7 linked regions of the Homo sapiens genome follow. The protein of the gene in region 1 purifies or fractionates together with the protein of each later gene. This does not show direct contact. Each region holds a gene or a part of one and is shown in the gene's direction. Other genes may lie near its edges. The genes, in order: EXOSC10, HNRNPR, EXOSC1, MAP3K14, UPF2, CTNNA1 and AICDA.

Evidence for each region.
Region 2: the proteins of EXOSC10 (region 1) and HNRNPR fractionate together in Homo sapiens (co-fractionation; one large-scale study listed by BioGRID). This does not show direct contact.
Region 3: the proteins of EXOSC10 (region 1) and EXOSC1 purify together in Homo sapiens (co-immunoprecipitation; 9 studies listed by BioGRID and IntAct, with this or other methods). This does not show direct contact.
Region 4: the proteins of EXOSC10 (region 1) and MAP3K14 purify together in Homo sapiens (tandem affinity purification; one large-scale study listed by IntAct). This does not show direct contact.
Region 5: the proteins of EXOSC10 (region 1) and UPF2 purify together in Homo sapiens (affinity purification with western blotting; 2 studies listed by BioGRID, with this or other methods). This does not show direct contact.
Region 6: the proteins of EXOSC10 (region 1) and CTNNA1 purify together in Homo sapiens (co-immunoprecipitation; one large-scale study listed by IntAct). This does not show direct contact.
Region 7: the proteins of EXOSC10 (region 1) and AICDA purify together in Homo sapiens (affinity purification with western blotting; 2 studies listed by BioGRID, with this or other methods). This does not show direct contact.

What each region holds. Positions count from the first base shown.
Region 1 is NC_000001.11:11,089,870-11,093,369, reverse strand, and holds part of EXOSC10 (exosome complex component 10), read left to right. Parts: intron 1-1,772; coding exon 1,773-1,877; intron 1,878-2,190; coding exon 2,191-2,356; intron 2,357-2,701; coding exon 2,702-2,816; intron 2,817-3,500. UniProt on the Homo sapiens protein: Catalytic component of the RNA exosome complex which has 3'->5' exoribonuclease activity and participates in a multitude of cellular RNA processing and degradation events.
Region 2 is NC_000001.11:23,316,785-23,320,284, reverse strand, and holds part of HNRNPR (heterogeneous nuclear ribonucleoprotein R), read left to right. Parts: intron 1-1,587; coding exon of another isoform or gene 1,588-1,596; coding exon 1,597-1,802; intron 1,803-3,500. UniProt on the Homo sapiens protein: Component of ribonucleosomes, which are complexes of at least 20 other different heterogeneous nuclear ribonucleoproteins (hnRNP). hnRNP play an important role in processing of precursor mRNA in the nucleus.
Region 3 is NC_000010.11:97,439,507-97,443,006, reverse strand, and holds part of EXOSC1 (exosome complex component CSL4), read left to right. Parts: intron 1-1,747; coding exon 1,748-1,836; intron 1,837-3,500. UniProt on the Homo sapiens protein: Non-catalytic component of the RNA exosome complex which has 3'->5' exoribonuclease activity and participates in a multitude of cellular RNA processing and degradation events.
Region 4 is NC_000017.11:45,307,021-45,310,520, reverse strand, and holds part of MAP3K14 (mitogen-activated protein kinase kinase kinase 14), read left to right. Parts: intron 1-3,500.
Region 5 is NC_000010.11:11,952,310-11,955,809, reverse strand, and holds part of UPF2 (regulator of nonsense transcripts 2), read left to right. Parts: intron 1-302; coding exon 303-578; intron 579-3,500. UniProt on the Homo sapiens protein: Involved in nonsense-mediated decay (NMD) of mRNAs containing premature stop codons by associating with the nuclear exon junction complex (EJC).
Region 6 is NC_000005.10:138,756,425-138,759,924, forward strand, and holds part of CTNNA1 (catenin alpha-1), read left to right. Parts: intron 1-3,500. UniProt on the Homo sapiens protein: Associates with the cytoplasmic domain of a variety of cadherins. The association of catenins to cadherins produces a complex which is linked to the actin filament network, and which seems to be of primary importance for cadherins cell-adhesion properties.
Region 7 is NC_000012.12:8,610,060-8,614,141, reverse strand, and holds the start of AICDA (single-stranded DNA cytosine deaminase), read left to right. Parts: upstream 1-1,282; 5' UTR 1,283-1,374; coding exon 1,375-1,382; intron 1,383-4,082. UniProt on the Homo sapiens protein: Single-stranded DNA-specific cytidine deaminase. Involved in somatic hypermutation (SHM), gene conversion, and class-switch recombination (CSR) in B-lymphocytes by deaminating C to U during transcription of Ig-variable (V) and Ig-switch (S) region DNA.

The sequences.
Region 1 (3,500 bases):
CGTCTGCTTTAAAGTGCAAAATAGATGAGGACTCCCTGCAGTTTCATTCTAAATAGTGTACTTCTATATTTAATGTATGCAGTCCAGGGACTTCTTAGTTATTTTAGTGGCCACATTACACTGTTAAATCATATTAGAATTTTCAGCCCAATTCAGAGCTTTAAAGAGTCAATCGAGTATTGGGCATGGGTAATTACTGTCCTACCTGCCTTTGAGCAAATAATGCATTAATTACTTGGCATGACATACTAATGACCTTTATTGATCAACTTTGTAAAATTTTTATTTTTTTATTGACAAAAATTGTATAGGCGATCATTTACATGGTTATGTCTCAATAAACCTATATTATAAGTCAAAAATGCATTTAATACACCTCACTTACCAAATAGCTTAACTGAACCTGCTTTAAATGTGCTCAGAAAACTTCCATTAGTCTACAGTTGGGCAAAATCTTACACAAAGCCTATTTTTATAATACAGTGTTGAATATTCATCTCATGTAATTCAAGTAGCATTGAATACACTTCTGAAAGTGAAAAACAGGTTGTGGCCGGGCACAGTAGCTCATGCCTGTAATCCTAGCATTTTGGGAGGCCAAGGCAGGTGGATCACTTGAGGTCAAGAGTTCAAGACCAGCTTGGTCAACATAGTGAAACCCCATCTCTACTAAAAAATACAAAAATTAGCTGGGCGTGGTGGCGTGCACCTGTAGTCCCAGATACTCGGGAGGCTGAGGCATGAGAATTGCTTGAACCCAGGAGGCGAAGACTGCAGCAAGCTGAGATTGGACCACTGCACTCCAGCCTGGGCAACAGAGTGAGACTCCCTCTCAAAAAAAAAAAAAAGAAAAACAGGGCCAGGCACAGTGGCTTACGCCTGTAATCCTAGCACTTTGGGAGGTCGAGGCAGGCAGCTCACAAGGTCAAGAGATCGAGACCATCCTGGCCAACCTGGTGAAACCCTGTCTCTACTAAAAATACAAAAATTAGCTGGGCGTGGTGGTGCATGCCTGTAGTCCCAATTACTTGGGAGGCTGAGGCAGGAGAATCGCTTGAACCCGGGAGGCAGGTTGCAATTAGCTGAGATCACGCCATTACACTTCAGCCTGGCAACAGAGCAAGACTCTGTCTCAAAAAAGAAAAAAGAAAAACAGGTGGTAAGTGTACTTGAAATATGGATTCTACTAAATGCAAATCACTTTCACATCATTGTAAACTCAAAAACTTACAAGTCAAACTGTCATACATTGGGGACCATCTATATATTTATTACATACAACTTGATGTTTTGATACATACATTGATCTGTTCTTATATATGTATATTTTCTTACACAAATGTCTCTGAATACCAATCTCTTTAAAATGTTAGGTAATTAGGTGGGGCACGGTGGCTCACGCCTATAATCCCAGCATTTTGGGAGGCTCAGGTGGGCGGATCACTTGAGGTCAGGAGTTCGAGACCAGCCTGGCCAACCGGGTGAAACCCCATCTCTACTAAAAATAAAAAATTAGCCAGGTATGGTGGTGCACACCTGTAATCCCAGCTACTCGGGAGGCTGAGGCAGGAGAATCGCTTGAACCCTGGAGGCAGAGGTTGCAGTGAGCCCAATTCAGAACTGTAAAGAGTTGCAGTGAGGCAAGATTGCGCCACTGCACTCCAGCCTGGGTGACAGAGTGATACTCCATGTTAAATAAATAAAATGTTAGGTAGTTAACTCTGCTAACCTCAAAAGGAAAAATGCTTAACCAGTACCTCTTCTACTCTTAGGGTATTTTACTGGATGAAGCCTCAGGTGTAAACAAGAATCAACAGCCTGTCCTCCCTGCCGGCTTGCAGGTCCCCAAAACGGTAGTGTCCAGCTGGAACCGTAAGGTGAGGGCTTTTCAGATTAACTAGAGCTCTTGATGTCAGCTTCATAACAGAGATTTTGCTCATTCTAACATGCATTTCTGTTCTAATTTATTAGAGAACTGGCCACTGTCTCCTTTAGTTTGTTCTCATAAACATACACAAACTAATTACACCCTCTTCTTCTCTTTCTGGAGACCTCTACATGCACATACATTCTTAAATGAATGAATGACCTTTGCGATGTTCTTGTCTCCTCAGAAGTCATAAATTGGAATTTACTTTTCTAATTCATCAAGTTGCTGTGTTATAAAGTATTTGTATTCATTGATCATAGGCAGCAGAATATGGCAAAAAAGCAAAATCTGAAACTTTCCGGCTGCTTCATGCAAAAAATATCATCCGACCTCAGCTCAAGTTTCGAGAGAAGATTGACAATTCCAACACACCATTTCTTCCTAAAATCTTCATCAAACCCAATGCTCAGAAACCTCTCCCTCAAGGTAAATAGTGCATACTTTGCCTGTGTTTGAGTCTCACTTTATTTGATGCAAAAACCAGGAAGGGTGTACAGGTCTCTCTTCTTTGTTCAAAGGGAGCCCACCCTCCTTTGTTCAAAGGGAGCCCAGTTCAGCTATTCCAGAGGCTGAAGTGGGAGGATCACTTGAGCCCAGGAGGTCAAGGCTACAGTGAGCTGTGCTTGTGCCACCACACTTCAGCCTGGGGGACAGAACATGACCCTGTCTCAAAAAAAAAAGCCAAAAAACAAAGGGAACCAGTTTACCCCTGTGTAATTAGAAAAGACATGAATGTGCTAATGATGTTTTTGTCACTGCTGGGATCCCCAGCTCTCTCTAAGGAAAGGCGGGAACGCCCACAGGATCGTCCTGAGGACTTGGACGTCCCCCCTGCACTGGCTGATTTCATCCATCAGCAGAGAACCCAGCAGGTTGAGCAAGACATGTAAGTGTTGGCCTGTGTCTGACTTTCTGCCGTGAGTACTTACCTTTTTGCCACATTTTCACTTTTGTGGAGTATATACATGAAAACAATCTGAGGAGTAGTGATTTCCTCCTTACACCCCAACCTGGGCCTTAGCAATAAAACCTGCTGTTTGTGTTCACAAAGGGCCTACACAGCATTGCCTCATGTAAACCTCACTGCAGTCCTGAGAAGTAGCAGTTGCTCTTATTCCCATTTTATAGATGTAAAACACGAAGGCTGGGCGCGGTGGCTTACGCCTGTAATCCCAGCACTTTGGGAGGCTGAGACCGGTGGATCACCTGAGGTCAGGAGTTCGAGACCAGCCTGGCCAACATGGTGAAACCCCATCTCTACTGAAAATACAAAAATTAGCCAGGCGAGGTGGTGTGTGCCTGTAATCCCAGCTACTCGGGAGGCTGAGGCAGGAGAATCGCTTGAACTTGGGAGGTGGAGGTTGCAGTGAGCCAAGATGGCGTCACTGCACTCCAGCCTGAGTGATAGAGTAAGACTCCATCTCAAAAAAAAAAAAAAAAAAAGATGTAAAAGCAAAATTAGAGATGCAGGCTTCTTGTAGAGTTGGAACTTCTTTGAGACAGGGTCTTGCTCTGTCGCCCAGACTGGAGTGTGGTGGCATGAACACAGCTCACTACAGCCTTTACCTCC
Region 2 (3,500 bases), about 12 Mb from region 1:
TGTTGTCAAGTATTGTGTTGTCAACTGCTGGCACAGTTCTTTGACCTCATCACTTTATTATCTATAGCTCCTTCTGGCTTCATGATCATTTATTCATTCTTTCAGCAGGTGTTTATTAAAGTTCCTGTTAAGTGCTGGCATTGTGCTATGTGCCTGGGATACACTGATGGCTAAGAGACATATTCTCTGCTTTCATAGATCCTATATCCTGAGAAAGGAGATAAGACCAAGAATATAAAAAATAAAAATTAAAGGAATATTTAGACATTGTGATAAGACACTGAAGCAGGAAATACAGGATATTTAGCTAGAGAATAGCTACTATCCCTGTTTCCATGGTTTTGGAAGACTTTTCTGATAAGATGACATGTCAACCAGCACCTGAAGGATGAAGAGGTTGTAGCATACAAAGAGCAAAAGGAAGTGCATTCCAAGACAGCAACACGTGCCAAGGTTCCAAGGCAAGAAAGAAGTCAGTATATTACAGTAACTGAGGAGGCCAGTATTATTAAAAGGTAGAATTAGGAGTAGAGTTGTATGAAATGAAGTAGGCAGGGCTTCTGTAGGCCATGTAAGGAGTTGGGTTTTTATTGTATATATAATGAGAAGGTATTTAAAGGTTTTAAGCAGGAAATAACACCTATTTCTTGTTTATGGGATATTATTCCTAGCGCTCTGTGGATAGGGGCTTGGAGAGAAGGGGTGTGAGTGGAAGCTGATAAATTAGTTGAAGCTGTCATACTAGTACAGATACAGGATTAGACTAGGGTAATAGCAGTGGAGATAGAAAGAAGTAAATGAGTTTGGAATTGGATAGGAGAGATGAAGGAAGAAATCAAGAATGGCTAACCAATTTCTGGCTTCAGAACCAGGTGGATGGCACTGTTTATTAGATAGGAAGTCTAGGGAAGGCAGATTTTGGCCATGGTGGTTCAGTTTTGGAAAAGTTAAATTTGCAATGTCTAAGACATCAAAGAGGATACATCGGGTAAGAACGTAGGCACATCTAGAGCTTAGAGAAGTCTGGGGTAGGAAAAAAATCTAAGTATTTATAAGGGTATAGGTAACATTTAAAAGTAGGGCTAGCTGACATTATTTAGAAAGAACACATACGGAGAGATAAGGGCAAAGGACTAAGACCAGAGGAACACTAATATTTAGTGATCACTTCCATTCTTGGTAAAAATAGTAACTTTTAAGTTAGCTTCAAGGAAGATTTTTGGCCATGATTAGTTGTCAAAAGTTAGTTCTCTTGGGTTTATATTACTAATTTTGTTTTTAAGATCCTTGTTAGTGCTTTAATAAAGTCATGTTATATCAAACGCTCTAAAACATTGTAGCATGTTAAATGTCAGAATATAGTAGATTTGTTGTATATGGCTGTACCTTCAGAACCCCTAAAATTAAAAAGGAACATCAAATACTGTCCCAAACCCCATATCTAATTATGTTGATCTAATTGTCTACAAAATTAGTGACTCATGTTGAGGCTGCTTCACTTATATTTTGCTCATCGTCAAGTGGATTTAGGTCTGCCTAATCGCTAGATGTGTGGTGGATGCTTTTGGCTTATATATCTGGCTGTTGGTTTAACAGAGGGTTTGGTGGACGTTATTCTCTATCATCAACCCGATGACAAAAAGAAGAATCGGGGGTTCTGCTTCCTTGAATATGAGGATCACAAGTCAGCAGCACAAGCCAGACGCCGGCTGATGAGTGGAAAAGTAAAAGTGTGGGGAAATGTAGTTACAGTTGAATGGGCTGACCCTGTGGAAGAACCAGATCCAGAAGTCATGGCTAAGGTAAATACAGTTGCTTGGAATGGGCATAGGGTCATCATTTAAATTTTGTACTCAGAATAAAGCTCAAATATTTTGAGTTTTATGATAAATAGAAATTGTAGCTTTAGACTTCAACTGTTTGGCAAGGAGCGGCTTTAACACTAAAGTTAACAGCCTGTCTTGGTATCCAGGAATTTCCATTAACAATCCCTTTTCCTGCAGATTAAATGTGCAAAAGGAACTGAAATGAAATTCCTTCAATTAAGTAGTCCCATACACACTGGGTGTTTGTTTAGTGCTAGGCACTGTGAGGGATAGAGGTTTTTTTTTTTTTTAAAAGTCCTGAGTAAAGAGAGAAGTAATGTTTTGGAGATTATAAGTTATAATCTTCATTGACTATATTATGACTTTATTACTTGGCCATGAATTATGTTTTATTTAGATTTATAGCTAATTTTTCTTTTTTTAAGCTTTTTTTGTAGTTTTTATTTTTAAAAATATTTTATTTATTATTATTATTTTTTGAGACAGAGTCTTGCTGTGTTGCCCAGGCTGGAGTGCAGTGGTACGATCTCGGCTCACTGCAACCTCCACCTCCCAGGTTCAAGCGATTCTCCTTCCTCAGCCTCCCAAGTAGCTGGGACTACAGGCGCCTGCCACCATGCCCGGCTAAATTTTGTATTTTTAGTAGAGACAGCATTTCACCATATTGCAGGCTGGTCTCGAACTCCTAAGCTCATGATCTACCCGCCTTGGCCTCCCAAAGTGCTGGGATTAAGGCATGAGCCACCGTGCCCCGCCTCTTGTTTTTAAATGATCAGATTCCCTTAGTGTATTGTCCCCATGAAGAAAGGCAAAAGATTGTCATGTTTGCTCTTATTTGTTAGTGGCAAAATATGCATGGCAAGTCCTGTAAAGGGCCCTCAATTCCCTCCTGATTCCTGTACTTGCGTTGCCAGGATCTTAATAGTGGTGCCTTGAGTACTGGTTCTTAAGTTTTCCTTTGGGCGACTCCTGGGACACATCAGAGTTGCATTTCTTTTTTTTTGAGATGGAGTCTTGCTTTGTCCCAGGCTGGAGTGCAGTGGCGCGATCTCCACTCACGGCAAGCTCTGCCTCCTGGGTTCACGCCATTCTCCTGCCTCAGCCTCCCAAGTAGCTGGGACTACAGGTGCCCGCCACCACAGCTGGCTAATTTTTTGTATTTTTAGTAGAGACGGGGTTTCACCATGTTAGCCAGGGTGGTGTCCATCTCCTGACCCTGTGAACCGCCCGCCTCGGCCTCCCAAAGTGCTGGGGTTACAGGTGTGAGCCACTGCGCCCGGCCTCAGAGTTGCATTTCTGCTGCTTGCAATGAGCTCTTGAGCATTTTAGTTGTCTCTTCCCTTCACAGGGAGGCAGCAACTCTGAATGGCCATGAGTTAATGGTTGGATTCTTCTTGATAAGTCAGAAGTCAAGGTTTTTATTCCAGAATTTGAGGAGGCAAACCCTCGTTCTAAGTAGTTTGGAGGAGAACTCTGGTTTATACTTGTATAAAGTCTGGGTTGGCAGTGACATCTTTGGGTTAATCAGATAAGTTCTATTCAGAATGAACCAGAGAGGCTCTCAGAAGTGCTACTCAGTATCTTTTATCTCATATTCCTTGAGTAGATGGGTGTCTAGGAAAGGGATAGAGAATTTAAATAGCTCTGAGTTTTTATTTTGATTTTTTACTAGCT
Region 3 (3,500 bases), on another chromosome or scaffold:
AAAAAGAATCAAAAATTGCCGGGCATGGTGGCTCATGCTTGTAATCCCAGCACTTTGGGAGGCCGAGGTGGGCAGATCACCTGTGGTCAGGAGTTCAAGACCAGCCTGGCCAATCATGGCCAACATGGTGAAACCCTGTCTCTACCAAAAATACAAAAATTAGCTTAGCGTGGTGGTGCATGCCTGTAATCCCAGCTACTCGGGAGGCTGAGGCAGGAGAAGTGCTTGAACCCAGGAGGTGGAGGTTGCAGTGAGCCTGCGTCACAGCAGTCCAGCCTGGGCAACAGAGTGAGACTCCGTCTCAAAAAAAAAGAAGAAGAAGAATAAAAAATTAGCCAGGCATGGTAGCACATGCTTGTGGTCCCAACTACTTGGGAGGCTGAAGCAGGAAGATCGCTTGGGCCCAGGGGGTTGAGGCTGCAGTGAGCCATGATCACTCCAGCTTGGGTAACAGGGCAAGACTCTGTCTCTCAAGAAAAAAATAAAATTGATTTCCTTAGTCACATTAGCCACATTTCAAGTACTCAATAGCCACTTGTGGCTAGTGGTTGCTATACTGGTCAGCACATGACTTTTCTGTCATCACAGAAAGTTTTACTGGACTGTGCAGGCTTACAGATTTCTAGGATAATAATCAAGGCAGCCAAGTTCAGGCATGCATAGTTCCTTCACTGAGCTGATTCCCTGAATACATAGTTCTACCTGTGTCTGGGAAACAGGGATGCCAGAGGATGATTAGGAGGCCTATTTTTGAACATCTGAAGCTGAGTTCTTTTTCTGCAGAGAAGCAAAAGACTTTATTTTTTGCCATTCCTGTTTTTTTTTTTTTGAGACAGGGCCTTGCTCTGTCACCCAGGCTGGAGTGCAGTGGCACGATCTCGGCTCACTGCAGCCTCTGGCCTCTTGGGTTCAAGCAATTCTACTGCCTCTGCCTCCCGAGTAGCTGGGATTATAGGCATGTGCTGCCACGCCTGGCTAATTTTTGTATTTTTAGTACAGGTGGGGTTTTACCATGTTGGCCAGGCTGGTCCTGAACTCCTGACCTCAAGTGATGCGCCCACCTCAGCCTCCCAAAGTGCTGGGATTACAGGCATGAGCCACTGTGTCCAGCCTCTTTTTTTTTTTTTTTTTTAATTGTTAGCCATCTATACTTTAAAAAGTCTATACCTCTCTGAAGGGCAAGTTGTGAAAAGATTTAAAAAAAAAAAAAAAAACCCAGCCGGATGCAGTGGCTTACACCTGTAATCCCAGCACTTTGGGAGGCTGAAGCAGGCGAATCACCTGAGATCAGGAGTTCGAGACCAGCCTGACCAACATGGAGAAACCCTGTCTCTACTAGAAATACAAAATTAGCTGGGCATGGTGGTGCATGCCTGTAATCCCAGCTATTCAGGAGGCTAAGGCAGGAGAATTATTTGAACCCAGGAGGCGGAGGTTGCGGTGAGCCAAGATCGCGCCATTGCACTCCAGCCTGGGCAACAAGAGTGAAACTCCGTCTCAAAAAAAAAAAAAAAAAAAAACCCATACCACCTTTGTTTCCCATAGTAACTCTACCAGGTGGCCAGAGTGGCTCTTATTCCTCTTTACATGTGTCACTTACGCAGAGAGAAGTAGGAGTTAATTTGTCTTAAATTCTCTACTTAGTAGGGTTGCTTGCACTGAAGCCCTAGTAATCCCCAGTTTATTGCTGCCTCCTTGAGCTGACAACTGCTTATACTCTGATGCTGATCTTTTCTCTATTCCGCAGGTCTCTAGCATCAATTCACGCTTTGCCAAAGTACACATCCTGTATGTGGGGTCCATGCCTCTTAAGAACTCTTTTCGAGGAACTATCCGGTAAGAAGTATCCTTTTCACATATACCTTAGCAACTGGAATAAGATTAGGATAGACTAGGACACCAGAATTTTGAGCAACAGTTACAATTCCTATTTTTCTTTTGCCCGTTTTTCTTTCTTCTTTGTGCTTTGATTCTCCCCTAGTAGTATCCAAAAAATACATGGATGATCTAGGACAAAAGGAAAATATTAACGAGAGGGTTTAAAAGTAAAGCAAAGGCTGGGCGCGGTGGCTCACGCCTGTTATCCTAGCACTTTGAGAAGCTGAGGCGGGTGGATCTCTTGAGATCAGGAGTTTGAGACCAGCCTAGCCAACATGGTGAAACCCCATCTCTGTAAAAAATACAAAAATTAGCCAGGCACAGTGGCTCACACCTGTAATCCTATCACTTTGGGAGGCTGAGGTGGGTGGATCACAAAGTCAGGGGTTTGAGACCAGCCTGGCCAGTGTGGTGAAACCCTGTCTCTACTAAAAATACAAAAACTAGCCGGACATGTTGGCGTGTGCCTGTAATCCCAGCTGCTCAGGAGGCTGAAGCCAAAGAATCGCTTGAACCCAGGAGGCAGAGGTTGCAGTGAGCCAAGATTGCGCCATTGCACTCCAGCCTGGGGGACAGAGCGAGACTCTGTCTTTAAAAAAAAAAAAAAAAAAAATTAGCTGGGCATGGTGGTGCGTGCCTGTACTCCCAGCTACTTGTGGAGCTGAAGCAGGAAGATCACTTGAGCCTAGGAGGCAGAGGTTGCAGTGAGCTGAGATTGCACCACTGCACTCTAGCCTGGGCAACAGAGTGAGACCCTGTCTCAAAAAACAAATAAATAAATAAAAGGTAAAGCAAAAAGAATTGAGTGAAGCTGAAGTTTAGCAGTGTCAGGATGACTCAAACCAAAGTAGAAGGCAGGCTGGGCGTGGTGGCTCATGCCTGTAATCCCAGCACTTTGGGAGGCCGAGGCGGGCGGATCACCTGAGGTCGGGAGTTCGAGACCAGCCTGACCAACATGGAGAAACACCGTCTCTACTAAAAATACAAAATTAGCCAGGCGTGGTGGCACATGCCTATAATCCCAGCTACTAGGGAGGCTGAGGCAGGAGAATCACTTGAACCTGGGAGGCGGAGCTTGCGGTGAGCCAAGATCGTGCCATTGTACTCCAGCCTGGGCAACAAGAGTGAAACTCCGTCTCAAAAAAAAAAAAAAAAAAAGTAGAAGGCATTTTAGGAAGCACTTTAAAATTTAATATAGATTGAACTCAGAGGTTATAAAACATTGAAAAGATTTGTGGGTGAGATGGTGATTTCGTGTGGCTTCCTTGAGAAAGGACAAACATTTCTTGCCAGGCAGATAATCTAACTTTTGAGGCCCTTTCCAGCCTCAGGATTTGATGTGGTTCTGTAGTGCAGCAGTCCCCAACCTTTTTGGCACCAGGGACCAGTTTCTTGGAAGACAGTTTTTCCACAGACCATGGAGGGGGTGGTTGCAGAATGATTCAAGTGCATTACATTTATGGTGCACTTTATTTCTGTTATTATTACACTGTAATATATAATGAAATAATTATACAGCTCACCATAATATAGAATCAGCGGGAGCCCTGAGTTTGTTTCCCTGCAATTCGATGGTCCCATCTGGGGGTGATGGGAGACAGTGACAGATCATCAGGCATTAG
Region 4 (3,500 bases), on another chromosome or scaffold:
CAAAGAATTATTGTAGCCAAAATCTACCACCCACCTTCTACTGACATTAAAGTTTCCTTTTACTGGGCCAGAATTAAAAGGTAGGTGTTTCTGGTCCATACTAGGGATAGCCAGGAGGGTTGGGAGGAAAAGGAGGCTTAGCCAGCCTCCAATGAGGATGTGGTTGCCAGTTAAGATTATAAATGGAGGCTGGGCACGGTGGCTCGTGCCTGTAATCCCAGTGCTTTGGGAGGCTGAGGCGGGCGGATCACAAGGTCAAGAGATTGAGACCATCCTGGCCAACATGGTGAAACCCCATCTCTACTAAAAATACAAAAAAGTTAGCTGGGCATGGTGGCACATGCCTGTAATCCCAGCTACTCGGGAGGCTGGGGTAGGAGAATCACTTGAACCTGGGAGGTGGAGGTTGCAGTGAGCCAAGATCCACCATTGCACTCCAGCCTGGGCGACAAGAGCGAAACTCCGTCTCAAAAAAAAAAAAAAAAAAAAAAAAGATGGACTCCTTTGGCCAAGGGAGTTGATTGGACCCACCAGACTCCTTGAGTCCTGCCCAACAGTCTCCACTGGCAGATGCTGTGCCTGGAGAGGCAGGAATAGCTTTGTATAGATCAATGTGAAGGACAGAGTCCTGCACCACCTCCCTCTAGCATGTATTAGATACTTGCAAATATATGCAAATCCGAGCCCAGATGGGTGTTGTCCAGTTCAGAAGGGTTATCTTCTCAAGCAATTAGAAGTAATTGGGTCTCTAGGTCAGCATTTAGGAAAGGGGATGGCAGGAGAGGCTCCACAGCCATCTTTCAGGACACCTGCTTGCTGGGGTGCAGTTAGAATACAGCCACCAAGTTGTGACTCCCTCCCTTCCAGCCTGCCAGGTGATTGGACAGTGTGGACACGTGTCCCTGTCCAGCCAGGCTCTCAGAGCCTGTGGCACTCATTTATTCCTCAGAAGTGTGTCTGTCCTTTCACTCAGGAACATTTGCCAAGTGTGTCAAATGGGCCATGTCTGCTAGGTGCTAGAAAACCAAACACAATTGAGGCACCGCCCTGGAGGACCTCACCAAGACAGGGGTAAGCTGGGCACGAAGGCAGACATCTCACAGGTCAACCCCGGTGCTGGTCAGGAGCCATGACTATAGGAGCTGGAGGGAGCGAGGAGGCCACCATGCGCAGCCCAGTGGCCCTCCTTTTCCAGCCTGAGCCAGCACTGTCAGGCGTAGAGCGTCTCGGATTCTGCAGGTGCCTGGGTGGGAACACCTTGGTATTTCTCTCACCCTGGGGTCTTGTACCACTTGTCAGCTTGGAGCGGGAGCTTGGTAACAGTTGGGCAACTTCAGCACTCTGGGGGAAAGAAGTGCATTTTCAGAAGCGTAGGGACAGTCAGGAGAAATTTGCTCAAATGTTGCTTGGGCACAGTGGCTCATGCCTGTAATCCCAATGACTTGGGAGGCTAAGGCAGGAGGATTGCCTTTTAGGCCAAGAACTGGAGACCAGCCTGGACAACATAGTGAGATCCACCTCCAAAAAAAAAATTTTTTTAAACTAGCTGGACATTGCCAGGCGCAGTGGCTCACACCTGTAATCCCAGCACTTCGGGAGGCCAAGACAGGCAGACCACTTGAGGCCAGGAGGTCAAGACCAGCCTGGCCAACATGGTGAGACCCGTCTCTACTAAAAATACAAAAATTAGCCAGGTGTGTTGGTGGGCACTTGTAATCCCAGCTACTCGGGAGGCTGAGGCACAAGAATCACTTGAACCTGGGAGGCAGAGGTTGCAATGAGCCATGATCGCACCACTGCACCCCAGCCTGGGCGACAGAGCAAGACTCTGTCAAAAAAAAAAAAAAAAGATTAGCTGGGCATGGTGGTGCTTACCTGTAGTCCAGCTACTTCAGAGGCTGAGGTGGGATGATCACTTGAGCTCAGGAGTTCGAGGCTGTAGTAAGCTATGGTTGTACCACTGCATTCCAGCCTGGGTGACAGAACAAGTCCTCTTCTCAAAAAAGAAAATATAGTTCAAAGTAGAATCAGACAGTGAGTAGCCAGCTAATAAACACATAACTGACCACCTCCCACCCCTCCAAGTGAGAATTGGGAGGGCAGTGACCACACTGGCACATCCCATAGGCTTGGTGCCACTAGAGAGTTGTAGGCAGGTAGATCAAGGCAGTGCTTCTAGGTAACTGGGTTCAGCATTCCAAGAAGGCCTTTCAAGGGTTTCAACAGAGAAGGCTCTTGGTCATCCTCATATTCCTGCTGGCCAGCACGGTGCCTGAAACATGGTAGCCACTGATTAAATATTTGCTGTTGAGTGAAAGTACAAGACTTGAATCCAAACTCCTCCCGCTAAGCCCTGCTGGCCTCGGGGAGGACGAGAGAGCCGTGGGCTGTTTCATGATTTACCCTCTTTTACCAAAGAATCGTGTGAGATCCTCTGAGAATATTCCTCATCATGCCCCATGTCCCAAGCCCTTTTTTACCTTCCCAAGGGAGGACAAGAATATGACCCCTCATTATAAAGGGACCCCTCTGCCACTCATGTCCTCAAGCTGGTTACTTGGTCCAGCTTGTCAAAGAGCATGTGGGGCAGCATCTGAAATGAGGCCAGGGTCAAGGTTGCCCCGCCACAGGGCGGAGCTGGACCTGTGCCTCCTTCCATGCATTGGAAGCCTTCTGTGGAAGCTGAGTTCTTTGGGTTTCTTGTTTATTCTGAAGTTCCTCAAACTAGTTCCTCAATTTCAGAACCAGTCACCAGTGACTACAATGAACTTGAATTCTCCTATACAGGGAGCCTGAGCCTGTCTTTCTTCATCTTTTCTGAACACAGGTAGACGCTGCTTGAAGCCACTCCCACCTCTGAAAACCAGATTTCTAAACCCAGAAAGGAGCGGTGGGTGGTTGTATTTCAGCGAGATTGACCGTAGCCTAGGGAACTTCTTGCTCAGAATCCACCCCAAAAGGTTAAATAAGGAGAGTTGTTTTTCACAACCAAAATGCTGCTTGTAACGATGATCTCAAAGCTTGGCAAGATCACAAAGTACGTTTTGAGTCATCAAAGAAACTGGCTGTGTTTCACATGATTTTAGTGTCAAGGGCAATTATGGCCATCTAATCTTTGGAAATTGGTCATGTTAAGTGGCATACAGGGCAGCCCCCACTTAATCAGAATATTCAGTTACACAAAATACCCTAAGTTGCTGATTTCGATGACACTTGAAATTTTTTTAATTAATTAATTAATTAATTTTTTTTTTTAATTTTTTGAGACAGAGTCTCACTCTGTTGCCTAGGTTGGAGTGCAGTGGCACAATCTCGGCTCACTGCAACCTCCACCTCCCGGGTTCAAGCGATTCTTGTGCCTCAGCCTCCCGAGTAGCTGGGATTACAGGCACCCACCACCACACCCAGCTAATTTTTGTATTTCTAGTGGAGGCAGCGTTTTGCCATGTTGGCCAGGCTGGTCTCGATCTCACAACCTCAGGCAGTCCGCCCGCCTGGGC
Region 5 (3,500 bases), on another chromosome or scaffold:
TGATGGCAGAGAAAATAGGTTAAGGGTAGAATTACATTTTAACTGTTTTAGAAACAATTCATGTAATGATAGCTAAATTTAATACCTAACATGTTCTTTTTATGAAAACACTTTAAAGATAGCCATTTCCTAGAGAGAGAAAAGGACACCTAGAAGTAACCAGTTTATTAGAAAAGATCTGTCATTTCTCTATTCAGTGTTCTTTCAGTAATAGATATTTTCAAGTTACAGAGACAAGTTTAACCTGTTTTCATATACACTACTCCTCTTTAATGAAAATCTGTGGTTTTGTTGCCTTTTAGGTTAATCAACCTAAATTTAATCAGAGGCGCATCAGCAGTGCCAAGTTCTTAGGAGAACTTTACAATTACCGAATGGTGGAATCAGCTGTTATTTTCAGAACTCTGTATTCTTTTACCTCATTTGGTGTTAATCCTGATGGCTCTCCAAGTTCCCTGGACCCACCTGAGCATCTTTTCAGAATTAGACTCGTATGCACTATTCTGGACACATGTGGCCAGTACTTTGACAGAGGTTCCAGTAAACGAAAACTTGATTGTTTCCTTGTATATTTTCAGGTATATAAGCTGAAATATTCAGTTTGGCATCATTTAACATATTGCATGTGTTTTAAAAGAATACTATGAGAGAAGAAACGTTATGGTATTCATATATTATATATATGTTCATAATTAGATTATATTCTTCATATAAGAATGCTTTTGGAAATTTAAAGATATATGATGGATTCTATTGTATGAACATTCTCATTGCATATAACTTTTATGATTGATAATGATTGGTCATTAATTTTGGGAGTTGTTTTCATACAGTTTATAAATTTGGTTCAGTAATTTATGGACCGTGATATTTAATACAGTAATTTATTGATTAAATTACTTGTGATTTGTAATACATTTGTTAATGTTCTCTTCTCACTCATGTATATTCTGGTTTACATCTCAAATTCTTGTTTCTTTCTTTTTTTTTTTTTTAAATAGAAATGGGGTCTTGCTATGTTGGCCAGGTTGGTCTTGCACTCCTAGCCTCAAGTAAACCTCCCGCGTCAGCCTCCCAAAGTGTTAGGATTACAGGCATGAACCATCGCGCCCAGCCCAAATTCTTGTTTCTAAAAGATATATATATGTATATATATATATATATATTTTTTTTTTTGAGAGTAAGTCTTGCTGTGTCATCCAGGCTGGAGTGCAGTGGTGCAATCTCAGCTCACTGCAGCCTCCACCTCTCAGGTTCAAGCAATTCTCCTGCCTCAGCCTCCAGAGTACCTGGGATTACAGGTGTACTCCACCACACCCGGCTAATTTTTGTATTTTTGGTAGAGAGGGGGTTTCACCATGTTGGTTAGGCTGGTCTTGAACTCCTGACCTCAGGTGATCTGCCCACCTCGGCCTCCCAACGTTCTGGGATTAACAGGCGTGAGTCACTGTGCCCAGCCTAATTTTTTTTTAAAAAAAGAAAACCTATCATTTTTGAGGAAAATGTGTTATTTTTAATACAGTAAGAATATTTGTTCATTTATTTGTAAATTCTTGGGTTGTGTTTTCCATATCTTAATGTTGGGTTATTATATAAACTTGTGATTTAGACCAAGCACAATATAAATTAAATTCATATACAAATACAGGGACAGTACTACAACCTCTATAAAGTTTGTATTTCAGAGGTTAACTTATAGGTTGATTAGTTGGAGCCCAATTACTATTTCCCATAAAATACAATTTTCTAAGTGCCAATTAGGGTGAACAACTCACTATCAAGTGCTTTAAGTTTTACTAAGTGGTGATAGTACCATTCGATTCTATATAATCACAATTGTTAGTATTTTCATTTACCCATTATGAAGAAAATAAGTTTAATGTAACTTGAAGTATCAAAAATACATCCACATGGTGGCGTGTGTTAAGTTGGGGGTAAATATTCTTCGGGAATTGCGGTCTGTTAGCTTGCTCCTACCGCTATTCTTTTGCAGTAGAGGGAAACCTATTACTCCCTTACTTTCTGAATTGATGAGCAAAAAGTGGGGAAAAGGACTTGCAGATTTGAGGGTTGCAGTCCCTGTTGTATGTAAGGACCATCTTAAGTTGGATACTGTATTAAAAGCCAGAGTTTTGCTGCAAAATGGCAGCTATAACAGCATCCAAAGTAGAATCTCTCTCAGAAGAGAATCCTTTCGATTCACTCTGACATCTTAGGCTGAGAGAAAAGAAACACTCAGAAATATTCAGGAGCCAAAAGAGACAAAAATATTTTCCAAACTGATTAACAGACAAAAATGTGTAACAGAGCCATACCTAGGAATTGGAGTCAGAAGTGAGTGAGGCCTGGGTGATGAGGTCTGTGTGTTTCACCCAGAACATGGAGTGTACAGTTTAGTATTAGAAGGTCAGGAAGAAAGGATCCCCTGGAGCAGTGCTTTTAAACTTTCCTGTGCATCCATGTCCCCTGGGGACTTTGTAAAGATGCAGATTCTGATTCAGTTGACCTAGGGGGAGGCCTGAGATTCTACATTTCTAAGAAGCTCCCAGATGAGGTCCACACTTGGAGTAGCAAGGACCTGGAACAAACTGGAGAGGAAGAGTAAAACTCCCAGAGGAATACCTGTTCATATACTAGTAAATTCTTGGGTTGTGCTTTCAGTTAATGTAAATTTAGGAATTAAAACAAGTATAAAATAGAATGTGGGAACCAGGCTTGGAGTAGAGAGGGAAAATATCCACACCATGCCATATACACAGTAGATATTCAATAAATGCTTGTTGATGATTAGTGATTTTTATATATTTCAAAAACCGTATTTTCAGATACTTTAACTCTTCAAAAATCAAAGCAAGTAGCACAGAGAAAATAATGAACATTATCACAACGATGGCTTTGAATTTGGTTAAATTTGTAAAATTAAATATAGGAAATCAGTGCCTTGTTTTGGAGTACCTAAAAATTTATTTGGTATTTTATTTATAATATTTCCTTGCCTTAAAAAAACTGTGACAGTTATAATAAAAAGATATCTAGGGCCGGGCGCAGTGGCTCACACCTGTAATCCCAGCACTTTGGGAGGCCAAGGCGGGCGGATCACGAGGTCAGGAGATTGAGAACATCCTGGCTAACACAGTGAAACCCCGTCTCCACTAAAAATATTAAAAAGTAGCCGGGCGTGGTGGCATGCACCTGTAGTCCCAGCTGCTCGGGAGGCTGAGGCAGGAGAATGGCGTGAACCTGGGAGGCGGAGCTTGCAGTGAGCTGAGATGGCGCCACTGCACTCCAGACTGGGTGACAGAGCGAGACTCCATCTCAAAAAAAAAAAAAAAAAAAAAAAGATATTTAGTAAATTCACCAAATAGCTCAAGACCTGTATAGACAGAGGGAAATGATTGGAATAGGATCATTGCTGTTGACCATTAATAGAAATGGTAAGTGTCTTTTATAACCTTTCAGCTTAGTAGTTATAACTGGGAAACAGCACAATATAGTTTATT
Region 6 (3,500 bases), on another chromosome or scaffold:
CTAAAGTGCTGGGATTACAGGTGTGAGCCACCGCACTTTCGGATTTCTTTGAGAACGTAACTCACTGTGGGGCATAACAGACAGCCCTGATTGTTGGGGGTAGTGTTGTGTGCTGGTGAGAATATGGAGAGAAGGAACAGGGCCCTCTGCATTTGTAGAGGTCCTGAGACAGGAAAGACTCCGTGTGTTTAGAGACTTGAGAGAAGACTTGTATAGCTTGGGTACTTTTTCAGTGGGGAGAAGACCTCACATGAGATTGCCAGAGAAGGCAGAGGCCATGTTGGGGTTTTATTCTAGAGGTGTAAGAAGCCATTGTAGGGAGTTTCATGATTTGATTTCCTTTTTAAGACTCCTGCTAGTGCTTGGAGAAGGCTTGTGTTTGTGTGCATGTGGAAGCAGAGAGTTGAGCTAGGAAGATGGTGGAGTACGAGGTGGTAGGGATGAAGGGAGCTGTATTTTGGAGAAATGAGACAGGACTTAAATATGGATTGGGGCTGGACAGGGAGGCTCATGCCTATAATCCTGTTTTTTTGGGAGGCTGAGTTGGGAGGATCACTTGAAGCTAGGAGTTCAAGACCAGCCTGAGCAACTTTATGAGACCCCGCCTCTAAAAAAAAAAAAATCAACCAGGCATGGTGACACGCTCTGTAGTCCCAGCTACTCAGGAGGCTGAGGTGGTAGGATTCATTGCTTGAGCTTGGGAGGTGGAGGTTGCAGTGAGCTCTGATCATGTCACACTGCAGCCTGGGTGACAGAGTGAGACCCTGTCTCAAACAAAAGAAAAAAAGGGAGGAAGGGAGGGAGGAAGGAAGGAGAAAGAAAGAAAACAGAATGGTGGTTGTTAGGGGCCAGGTGAAGGGGAATAGGGAGCTATTGTTATGGGTACAGAGTTCGGTTTGGGAAGATGAAAAAAGTTCTGGAAATGGATCGTGAATATATGTAATGCCGCTGAGGCATACAGTATTTAAAAACAGTTCAAGGCTGCTGTGAACTATGATCATGCCCCTGCACTCCAGCCTGGGCAACACAGTGAGACCCTGACTCAGAAAAAAAGAAAATGGACTGGATGTTGGGGGCCTAGGGTAAAGTTGCTTCCTCAGTGATTCCCTTCTACTCTCCCAACATAACCTTTCATGATGAGCTTTTAGTCATATCTTAAGACTCAGCACTTTCGTTTCTGGTAGCAAATTTTTTAGCACTGGGTGGTGCATTACATTATGCTGTACGTTATTATTGATGTACCTGTTTGCCTTTACTGCTAGGAAGGGAGCCTTGTAAGCTCCTTGAAGGCAGGAACTGAGAGTCTTAGTTCTTGTCTTGGTGCTTAGTACCTGGCATGGAGGGCAAATTAGATGCTTGTTGAGTGAAGGAGGAAAAAGTCTTTTCTGCCTGGAGTCTAGCTTGTGGATGGAATGATAACAGATGAGGCAACAGTCAGATTATGGAGGGCCTCCAATAACAAATTTGGGCAAACTGAGAACCATCTACAGCCCATTCTTCTTCCTTGCCACCCAGATCTAATCACTGATGAAATCCTCTCCATGCAGTCCTCAGCTTATGTGTAATATATTCTTTTTTTCTCCTATTTCTTTTTTTTTTGAGATGGAGTTTTGCTCTTGTTGCCCAGGCTGGAGTGCAATGGCGTGATGTCGGCTCACTGCAACCTCTGTCTCCTGGGTTCAAGTGATTCTTCTGCCTCAGCCTCCCAAGTAGCTGGGATTACAGGCATGTGCCACCACACCTGGCTAATCTGGTATTTTAATTTTATTTATTTTATTTATTTTTATTTTTTTTTGAGATGGAGTCTTGCTCTGTCACCCAGGCTGGAGTGCAGTGGTGCGATCTTGGCTCCCTGCAACCTCCGCCTCCCGGGTTCATGCCGTTCTCCTGCCTCAGCCTCCCTAGTAGCTGGGACTGCAGGCGCCTGCCACCACACCCGGCTAACTTTTTTTGTTTGTTTGTTGTTGTTGTTGAGACGGAGTCTCGCTCTGTCACCAGGCTGGAGTGCAGTGGCACGATCTTGGCTCACTGCAACCTCTGCCTCCCGTGTTCAAGTGATTCTCCTGCCTCAGCCTCGCAAATAGCTGGACTACAGGCACATGCCACCACGCCCAGCTAATTTTTGTATTTTTAGTAGAGATGGCATTTCACCATGTTGGCCAGGATAGTCTTGATCTCTTGACCTCGTGATCTGCCCACCTCGGCCTCCCAAGGTGCTGGGATTACAGGTGTGAGCCACCACACCCGGCTGATATTTTTATTTTTAAAATACATTATTTTCTTGATTTTTCCCATACCTTCCTTTAGTTTTTTGAACATCTGTAAGACAGTTGTTTTAATGTCTTTGTCTAGTAGGTCTTCCATCTGGTCTTTCTCTGGGACAGTTTTTGTTTTTTTTTTGAGATGGAGTTTTGCTCTCGTTGCCCGGACTGGAGTGCAATGGCGTGATCTTGGCTCACTGCACTGCCTCCTGGCTTTAAGCGATTCTCCTGCCTCAGCCTCTTGAGTAGCTGGGATTACAGGCATGCGCCACCACACCTGGCTAATTTTGTATTTTAAGTAGAGACAGGGATTCTCCATGTTGGTCAGGCTGGTCTTGAACTCCTGACCTCAGGTGATCAGCCAGCCTTGGCTTCCCAAAGTACTGGGATTACAGGCATGAGCCACCGTGCCCAGCAACTGGGACAGTTTTTATTGGTTAATTTTTTTTTTCTTTTAATGGGTCATACTTTCCTGTATCTTTGTATGACCTGGGACTTTTTAATTTTTTTTTGAAAACTGGACATTTGAATCTAATGATGTGCTAACTCTGAAAATTGGACTCTTCTCATTCCCAGGGTTTGCTGGATTTTTTTGTTTATTTGTTACAGTTTGTTTTTATGCTGAGGATCAGCCTGAGATACAAACTTAAGGACTTCTCAGGTCTTTTTTGAGCCTGCACCTTTCCCTGGGCGCATGCACCATGGTAACTTTTTTCCTTATCTCCCCCGCACCCTCATGATTGCTTTTGAATATCCTAGTCTTTAAAGTCTAGCTCCTAAAGAGGAAAAAGAGAAAAATGAAGGAAGTAGGGAGGTGGGGGCCCTTGGCCCATTAAATTTCCTGGAAGTCTACTTCAGCTGGAGGGGGAGGACTTGCAGTCATGGAGGGGGTGCAATAATGGCTATCCTTCTCAGTGTCTGCCTATCCCTGATTATAAGCAGCAATCAGCAATTAGAATACGGATCCCTAATATTTGGAGGACAGGGTCCTTATTACCCATCCTGGTTCCCAAAAGCTGCTTGCAAGCTGTTTCAGGAATGCATTGTAGGTTGTCTGCCCGTGGCTGGGGGCTAGGGAATGGGGTAGCTGCTGCTCAGCTAAGGGCTGAAATTGACTGAAATTAACCCAATTTACTGTCCCAGTCTTTCCTTGGAAGTTGCAAGCTTTCTTCAACAGTCCCCAGAATTACATCTGACTAATTATGCCAGTGTAATTGTCTAGGTGGGGAGACTGATCTT
Region 7 (4,082 bases), on another chromosome or scaffold:
ACCCAGTGGGAGGTAGTTGAACAATGGGGGTGGGTCTTTCCCATGCTGTTCTCATGATAGTGAATAAGTCTCACAAGATCTGATGGTTTTATAAAGGGATTTCCCCCTGCGTGAGCTCTCTCTTGCCTACCACCATGTAAGATGTCCCTTGCTCTTCTGCCATGATTGTGAGGCCTCCCCAGCCATGTGGAACTGTGAGTCAACTAAACCTCTTTCCTTTATAAATTACCCAGTCTCAGGCATGTCTTTATTAGCAGTGTGAGAACAGACGAATACATGGTCCAAGCTAGGGCTATTGATTTGAAAATCATCAAGGTATAGATGGTATCAAAGGCTTGAGGCAGGAAGAGAGCAGAGACCCTAGCTGCATTGCTTAGCATTGCATCCCTAGCACCTGGCATAGTTTCCATTAACAGTAGGCATGAAGTATCTACTCAGTGAATAAATAGAATGCATATGGGCTACAGTAGGAGAGAGAAATAAAATCTTTAATAGACCAAGTTCTATGAGAGCACAAAATTAAAGTCTTTTATTTGAAGATCTTAGCCTGTTTTCCAAATTCAGTGCAGCCAGTTAGACACTGAATCTGTCTGGTGAAACAAGCATTTTTGTATTTTGGGGGACTGCTGCTGCTTCTGACTCCAAATTAAGGATTTTTTTTTTTTCTAAAAAAGATGGCTCATGCAAAAATCACTCTTTGGTGTAAATATCTAGTCTTCAAGCAATTCTTGTAATGCAATCAGAAAGAAAAAAATCCATGGTTTGGGAGGCAAAATTTTTGTGTTCTAAATTCTATATAACTGAGTTCATTTGCTTAACTGCAAAGCAGGAGCTGCTAGTGCCTGTCTGTACTGAGGTTCAGAGAGACTGTGGGAATATGGGGGAATTAGAGGCTATCTGAGGCTCTTCAACACAATAACCCAAGAAGCTATTTAAATGCTCTTTAAGGTATTTACATAAATATTACTATTCTCATTGTGCTTTTATTTTGTGTTATCATGATTATAATTGAAGTGTCTACTGTTACTGCCTCCTGATCTTTGCTAGCTATGGAGCATGGACTGGGCTTTTAGAGCAGCAGCCCCAAAGGAACCTAAACATTAAAGCAGAGCTGCCCTCAATGGTTTAACCTGTGTGACTCTGCCTATGACAGCCCCACCCACCCATCTTCACTGGATCCAAATCAGGAGCAAGGCCGTTGGGGTACCTGGTGGGGGTGATGCTGTCAGGGGAGGAGCCCAAAAGGGCAAGCTCAAATTTGAATGTGAAGGGCCAATGCACTGTCAGACTAAGACAGAGAACCATCATTAATTGAAGTGAGATTTTTCTGGCCTGAGACTTGCAGGGAGGCAAGAAGACACTCTGGACACCACTATGGACAGGTAAAGAGGCAGTCTTCTCGTGGGTGATTGCACTGGCCTTCCTCTCAGAGCAAATCTGAGTAATGAGACTGGTAGCTATCCCTTTCTCTCATGTAACTGTCTGACTGATAAGATCAGCTTGATCAATATGCATATATATTTTTTGATCTGTCTCCTTTTCTTCTATTCAGATCTTATACGCTGTCAGCCCAATTCTTTCTGTTTCAGACTTCTCTTGATTTCCCTCTTTTTCATGTGGCAAAAGAAGTAGTGCGTACAATGTACTGATTCGTCCTGAGATTTGTACCATGGTTGAAACTAATTTATGGTAATAATATTAACATAGCAAATCTTTAGAGACTCAAATCATGAAAAGGTAATAGCAGTACTGTACTAAAAACGGTAGTGCTAATTTTCGTAATAATTTTGTAAATATTCAACAGTAAAACAACTTGAAGACACACTTTCCTAGGGAGGCGTTACTGAAATAATTTAGCTATAGTAAGAAAATTTGTAATTTTAGAAATGCCAAGCATTCTAAATTAATTGCTTGAAAGTCACTATGATTGTGTCCATTATAAGGAGACAAATTCATTCAAGCAAGTTATTTAATGTTAAAGGCCCAATTGTTAGGCAGTTAATGGCACTTTTACTATTAACTAATCTTTCCATTTGTTCAGACGTAGCTTAACTTACCTCTTAGGTGTGAATTTGGTTAAGGTCCTCATAATGTCTTTATGTGCAGTTTTTGATAGGTTATTGTCATAGAACTTATTCTATTCCTACATTTATGATTACTATGGATGTATGAGAATAACACCTAATCCTTATACTTTACCTCAATTTAACTCCTTTATAAAGAACTTACATTACAGAATAAAGATTTTTTAAAAATATATTTTTTTGTAGAGACAGGGTCTTAGCCCAGCCGAGGCTGGTCTCTAAGTCCTGGCCCAAGCGATCCTCCTGCCTGGGCCTCCTAAAGTGCTGGAATTATAGACATGAGCCATCACATCCAATATACAGAATAAAGATTTTTAATGGAGGATTTAATGTTCTTCAGAAAATTTTCTTGAGGTCAGACAATGTCAAATGTCTCCTCAGTTTACACTGAGATTTTGAAAACAAGTCTGAGCTATAGGTCCTTGTGAAGGGTCCATTGGAAATACTTGTTCAAAGTAAAATGGAAAGCAAAGGTAAAATCAGCAGTTGAAATTCAGAGAAAGACAGAAAAGGAGAAAAGATGAAATTCAACAGGACAGAAGGGAAATATATTATCATTAAGGAGGACAGTATCTGTAGAGCTCATTAGTGATGGCAAAATGACTTGGTCAGGATTATTTTTAACCCGCTTGTTTCTGGTTTGCACGGCTGGGGATGCAGCTAGGGTTCTGCCTCAGGGAGCACAGCTGTCCAGAGCAGCTGTCAGCCTGCAAGCCTGAAACACTCCCTCGGTAAAGTCCTTCCTACTCAGGACAGAAATGACGAGAACAGGGAGCTGGAAACAGGCCCCTAACCAGAGAAGGGAAGTAATGGATCAACAAAGTTAACTAGCAGGTCAGGATCACGCAATTCATTTCACTCTGACTGGTAACATGTGACAGAAACAGTGTAGGCTTATTGTATTTTCATGTAGAGTAGGACCCAAAAATCCACCCAAAGTCCTTTATCTATGCCACATCCTTCTTATCTATACTTCCAGGACACTTTTTCTTCCTTATGATAAGGCTCTCTCTCTCTCCACACACACACACACACACACACACACACACACACACACACACACAAACACACACCCCGCCAACCAAGGTGCATGTAAAAAGATGTAGATTCCTCTGCCTTTCTCATCTACACAGCCCAGGAGGGTAAGTTAATATAAGAGGGATTTATTGGTAAGAGATGATGCTTAATCTGTTTAACACTGGGCCTCAAAGAGAGAATTTCTTTTCTTCTGTACTTATTAAGCACCTATTATGTGTTGAGCTTATATATACAAAGGGTTATTATATGCTAATATAGTAATAGTAATGGTGGTTGGTACTATGGTAATTACCATAAAAATTATTATCCTTTTAAAATAAAGCTAATTATTATTGGATCTTTTTTAGTATTCATTTTATGTTTTTTATGTTTTTGATTTTTTAAAAGACAATCTCACCCTGTTACCCAGGCTGGAGTGCAGTGGTGCAATCATAGCTTTCTGCAGTCTTGAACTCCTGGGCTCAAGCAATCCTCCTGCCTTGGCCTCCCAAAGTGTTGGGATACAGTCATGAGCCACTGCATCTGGCCTAGGATCCATTTAGATTAAAATATGCATTTTAAATTTTAAAATAATATGGCTAATTTTTACCTTATGTAATGTGTATACTGGCAATAAATCTAGTTTGCTGCCTAAAGTTTAAAGTGCTTTCCAGTAAGCTTCATGTACGTGAGGGGAGACATTTAAAGTGAAACAGACAGCCAGGTGTGGTGGCTCACGCCTGTAATCCCAGCACTCTGGGAGGCTGAGGTGGGTGGATCGCTTGAGCCCTGGAGTTCAAGACCAGCCTGAGCAACATGGCAAAACGCTGTTTCTATAACAAAAATTAGCCGGGCATGGTGGCATGTGCCTGTGGTCCCAGCTACTAGGGGGCTGAGGCAGGAGAATCGTTGGAGCCCAGGAGGTCAAGGCTGCACTGAGCAGTGCTTGCGCCACTGCACTCCAGCCTGGGTGACAGGACC